Linked DNA regions of Homo sapiens. The protein of the gene in region 1 interacts with the protein of each later gene in a pairwise test. Each region holds a gene or a part of one and is shown on either strand. Other genes may lie near its edges.

Region 1 (3,500 bases):
TCTCTAGTGTTCAAGACCTACACTCCATCCTCCTTTAATTTGCCCAGTGGCCTGACACTTGGCAGGGCAAGTGCTGTCATATGGAAGATCTGTTTACGTGAACATTACTGAAGGTCATTCTTCTATTTGCAAGCAGGTCACTTTAGCTTTTTACTTTCAAGTCCCAAAGGGAAACAAAACAAGACACCTTTTTGGTTTGGTTGATGGAGTTTTTGTTCTTGTATCCTTGTTTGTTGAATTTACTGGTTTGAAAACATCCTGTTTCTATTCTAGAGATTTAAAAACATATTTAAGCCTACTTCTTTTCTATCAATATAAAGTTAATCAGGATGCAATTATTCAACAATATTCATTATCTATGTTATCAGGCACTGTACTGAGTACTACATACTCTCTCCAAATAAGAACTACATACCATTCTCTCTTTCCTTCCTCTGTGGCTCCGCCAATTCCCATCATGAGATTATCGGGGATTTTTAGCTGACTGGTTAATGTTCAATATCACAAATCAACATCTTTTGGACTGAATTTTTTATGCTGTTTCTTATCTTTCCATTTTCTTAGATTTTTCCCAAGAATATATCCTTGAGCAATTCCTTTAGAAAAGGAATTTCTAGATTTAAACCATTTTCCTCTCAAACATTTAAAGCTATTCAATTCTTCCGTGTATTCTAATATCCAGTGCTATATTTAAGAGGGAATCGGATTCTTTCTTACTTGTAGGTGGTCTGGTTTTTGCCTTTTAAGCTTCTGCAAAAAACAACAACAAACTTGTGGTATTACACTGACTCTACAGATCAATTTGGGGACAACTTCCATGTGTTCCACCACCAATACTGAATCTTTCAATCGACTGACGTGGTATCTCTCTCTCCATCTATTTACGTTTGTCTTGATTTTCTCTTGACAGCGTTTAGTTATTGTTGACATACCGGTCTTAAATACAATTTGTTAAGTTTATTCCTAAGAATTAATGTTTTCTGATGGGCAGAAGTTGGAAGAGTTTGCAGGGTTCAGAAGAAGACAGGAAGATGAGGGAAAGTCTGGAACTTCTTAGAGATTTGTTAAATGGTTTTGACCAAAATACTGATAGAAATACGGGCAGTGAAGGCCAGGCTGACAAAAGTCTCAGATGGAAATGATTAAAGATAGTACCTTTTAAAATTTCAACTTCAGTTCTTCATTACTAGTATATAGAAGTACAATAAACTGCTATATAATGACCTTGTAGCCTGTGAAACTACTTCGTTATAGACTTTTTCTTGTTTATTCAGTAGGATTTTCTATAGACATAAGTACATCATCTACAAATGGAGACTGTTTTACCTTTTCTTTCCAATCTGTATTCCTTTTTTACTTCTTGCCTATTACTCTGACTGGAACCTCTGGTGCTGATGTACAACTTTTAGATTTTCCTTTTCATGTTTTCAATATTCTGACATTTCACCACCATGGATAGCGGTGTGAGTCTGTTTTCAAGCTTCTGCAAAGCTTTCCAGGGATATTCAAATCTAAAAGCCAGCACATTTTTCCTCACCTCCCAGTTCCTCCTGGGAATCGGTAACCACTTGGGGCATGCTCAGAAGTTCCCGCCAGAGTCCCTATCCACTGCTTCAGAATAGAATGAAACACCACTACTTCAAGGAAGAAGGCTCTGGTGGGGTGAGAGGACAGGAAAGGAAAATCTAACCTAGCTATTCCAAAATGAGTCCAAATTTATCACCCAGACAAATGCCCAGGTCCTATCACTACTCCTTCTGCCCTTTAATTCTGGGTCAAAAACCTCCTGTAATCAGTTCCCACCTCACAGCAACTTACTCCTGGCATGTGCTTTGGGCTATCTTTCTATTTATTTCTTCACAGTTATCTTGTCTTTATCCATCTTTCAAAAATAATTACAAATTCCAGTCACTGATAGCATGTCTTCTAGAACTATTAGAAATTTATTTTGTGTGTGTGTGTGTGTGTGTGTGTGTGTGTGTATATTTTTTTTTTTTTGAGACGGAGTCTTGCTGTCGCCCAGGCTGGAGTGCAGTGGTACCATCTCGGCTCACTGCAAGCTCCGCTTCCCAGGTTCATGCCATTCTCCTGCCTCAGCCTCCTGAGTAGGTGGGACTACAGGCACCCGCCACCTCGCCCGGCTAGTTTTCTGTATTTTCAGTAGAGACGGGGTTTCACTGTGTTAGCCAGGATGGTCTCGATCTCGACCTCGTGATCCACCTGCCTCGGCCTCCCAAAGTGCTGGGATTACAGGCGTGAGCCACTGCACCCGGCCTGTTTAATATATTTTCTAAAAGCTTATGGGGTTTTGGGTCCCATAGAGCACAGAGGATATGCTCAATCTGAACTGAGGATAAGAAGGCAGGGAAGAGACGTCTAAATTAACATTACTGAACCCATTATTATCTGCCAGGCACTGTGTGTTTATCATCATGCGTGTGCCACTTAATCTTTGTAACAGTTCCATGAGGCAAACACAATTATGCTTATTTTAAAGATAGGGAACAGGTGCAGAAAGGTACATTAACTATGTCCAAGGTTACATAGTTTAATGAGTAACAACCAACTTTCAAACTCAAGATTATACAACCCTAAAGCCCATACTCTTAGACAATATACCTTGAGGCTACTCACTGATCCAGAGGATGGAGAGGATTCTGTAGTAAAGTCAATTATTTCTCAAATTACTCCCAAGAAATAGACAGTACAAAATATTTTCCAAGCCAGTTCTGCAGAGTAAAAGAAATTTAGCCACTCCTGCCTATGGTATAGATGATGAATTTCATGACACTGAATGTTATGCCTTCGAGGACTGAATGTTAGGCCTTCCAGGACTGGAATAAAAATCTGAGTTGGGGAAAAAAAAAAAAAAAAAAAGCTAACATTCTCAGGGATGATTTTTCCCAGTGGGTAAGCACCCTCAGCTCCATGATTGCTGGGCTTTATGACAGTGAAACAAATTAGGAAAACTATTAAAGTTTTAATGAAAACAAACATTTGCTACCTGTCCAAGTGTAAAAACACAGTCTCTGAGGACAGTGCTGTCTTCTCAAACATTTTTCATAATCACTCTTTTCCACACTTAAAAACTCAGCTATACCAAATCCTAGGAAATAAAGCATTGTCTAGAAGCATTCGGCCCTGTAAAACAATCTGAAAGCTGGGCTGAGCTGGAATGTATAAAAGAGGCTCAAGAAAGGAGACGAGGTCACTTCTGCCCATCCCACAATACCCCTTTGTCAGCAGAAGAGTTACTCCCACTTGGCAAAGGCTGTGTATGTTTTGTATATATATGTAATGGAACTCCAAAAAACATAGATTTTATTTTTTCCTTTTATTTTCCCCCATCGTTCTCCCAAATCTGAAAATGAAGCCAGGAAAAAAAAAAGGGACAGGGATATGAGAGACCTGGTTATAGTGAAAACAGCAATGACTAGAAACAAGTAGGCCTGGATTCAGGTCCTGGTTCTATCTCGAGTAGAAGGAGAAAGCAAGAACAA
Region 2 (2,168 bases), on another chromosome or scaffold:
TAACTGGTAGAACTAGTCCCCATACATTGCTCTTCTTTCTTCAGAGTTTTCCTAATTGTTTTGTTTGCTTATTTAGTTGTATGTAAAAACTTTAGAATGTCTTGTCCAATTCTGGGGTTGATTGGGGCATGTAACATCTGTATTTATATTGGGATTAATTACATTTATCATCAGTAAACTTTGAAGAACCAGTCAACTTCATGTTGCCGAATCTTCCAAAGAACCGACCTTTCCATCTGTTCCAGGCTTTGTTATCTTTCCACGGTGCTGTGACATTTTTCTCCTGCAGAAAGGAGAAGACATGCCAGCTTTGGGATGGCGGCTGCCCCGGGAAGAGGGAGGAGGCTGAGAACAGAACAGGCTCCCGCCCTCCACAGTGCTGTGGCAGGATATTATTCTTACTAGATATGTTGATGGGCACATGGGTGTTTCTTACATAACTATTTTCCTCTATGTTTGAAATATTTTATAGTTTAAAAAATTAAAAACAAACTTAGAAGTCAATTTTAATAGAAAAGAATTTATTGCAAATACAGTGACTTTTTATATTACAGTAGTACATTCCAATCAGCCATATGGCCATAATTTGCATACATTTCAAATATAAAACTATACTTTTTTTTTTTTTTACATATAGTACAATTTCCAGTGTGATGACATTTCAATGGGAAAAAGATTGTGCATTTGCAATAAACACCATCATTCCTGAGTCCACAGATAAGGTCCCCGGAGAAGGGGCTTCCCCTCCTTTCTCGCTGGGTTGACGTTCCCAGCGAGTGAAGCCTTTTCTGGAATGTGTGTACGCACCCTCCACCAAGAGTTCTAATAAGCTAAGCTTAAAGCAGAACAGTGAAATGGCAAAACTGTACAGAGCCCTGACTTTACATTTCACTCTGACAGCCAGGGTCGGAAGCACCACATGGAAAGTGCTGTCCATAACTGCTCACTTACCTGCTCCTTGCTGACAGCTCCCAGGATCTGGCTCCAGAGAGTGGCAAAACTGGGAATTTTGCCAAGGGAAATTACTCAGGACCGCTAATAAAAACGCCGGCTTCTGCAACATGCATATTCCCCCAGCCCCCACCTCCATCTTGCCCAGGGCAGACCATTCATTAACTATCTGCGGGGTGAACAAAGAATCCCAATCCTCAGATGTCCCAGGACTCATGGCTCATGACCCACGGAATCTAAGGCAGCACAGTGGCTTAATTTAAAAGATGTGCTTTCGAATGAATCCTAGAAAATAATCTGTCTTTACACAGAGAGGGCTGCGGGGGCAATCCTACTGACGAGTTTGTTGAGAGCGCGAACTTTTTCTTCCAAGAGGCGGCTTTGTTTCTCGGCGCCTCGCTGCTTCTCCTCGGTGGCCTGAAGTGCTCTCACCAGGTGGGCGTTCTCCACGTACAGCTCCTTCAGCAGCAGGTCGGACTTCGTGTTCTTTTCAAACTAGAGAGGGGAGGAAGCCATGCTTTGCATGAGGCCGGTGGAGAAACGCTACAGATCAGCCTGCTCTCTTTTATCCTCCCAGGTTTACGCAAACCACAGTTTTGGGCTCTTAGAAATCTGACCCAAGGCCGGGGGCAGTGGTTCACGCCTGTAATCCCAGCACTTTGGGAGGCTGAGGTGGGCAGATCCCAAGGTCAGGAGATCGAGACCATCCTGGCGAACACGGTGAAACCCCATCTCTACTAAAAAATACAAAAAAATTAGCTGGGCGTGGTGGCGGGCGCCTGTAGTCCCAGCTACCCGGGAGGCTGAGGCAGGAGAATGGTGTGAACCCGGGAGGTGGAGCTTGCAGTGAGCAGAGATCGCACCACTGCACTCCATCCAGCCTAGGCGACAGAGCAAGACTCTGTCTCCAAAAAAAAAAGAAATCTGACACAAATACTGGATTATAATGACAAGTTTTGTTACCCTGGCATGAGAGGAAATTGAGAATCTGCTGGGCTATGTGATGGAGAAAACTTGAGGCAGCTTTGTGCCGTGAAACAAGGACTTCAGGCAAAAGTGGCCAGTCCTCAAAAGGCCCTGGGACGGTCAGAGTGTGGAACAGGTTCATCTGCGTATGCGCTACTGGCTGTGATGTCAGCAAGGCCAGGAGCCAAGAGAAGCAGGGGAGGGAGCAGGCGCAGGACAGGCAGTACTGAGGCCCTGGGCTGTGGCCTGTG

The links.
Region 2: the proteins of KANSL1 (region 1) and NINL interact in a two-hybrid assay, tested with the Homo sapiens proteins (one large-scale study listed by BioGRID and IntAct).

Annotation. Positions count from the first base shown.
Region 1 is NC_000017.11:46,039,930-46,043,429, forward strand, and holds part of KANSL1 (KAT8 regulatory NSL complex subunit 1), read right to left. Parts: intron 1-3,500. UniProt on the Homo sapiens protein: Non-catalytic component of the NSL histone acetyltransferase complex, a multiprotein complex that mediates histone H4 acetylation at 'Lys-5'- and 'Lys-8' (H4K5ac and H4K8ac) at transcription start sites and promotes transcription initiation.
Region 2 is NC_000020.11:25,452,197-25,454,364, forward strand, and holds the end of NINL (ninein-like protein), read right to left. Parts: intron 1,447-2,168; coding exon 1,255-1,446; 3' UTR 501-1,254; downstream 1-500. UniProt on the Homo sapiens protein: Involved in the microtubule organization in interphase cells. Overexpression induces the fragmentation of the Golgi, and causes lysosomes to disperse toward the cell periphery; it also interferes with mitotic spindle assembly.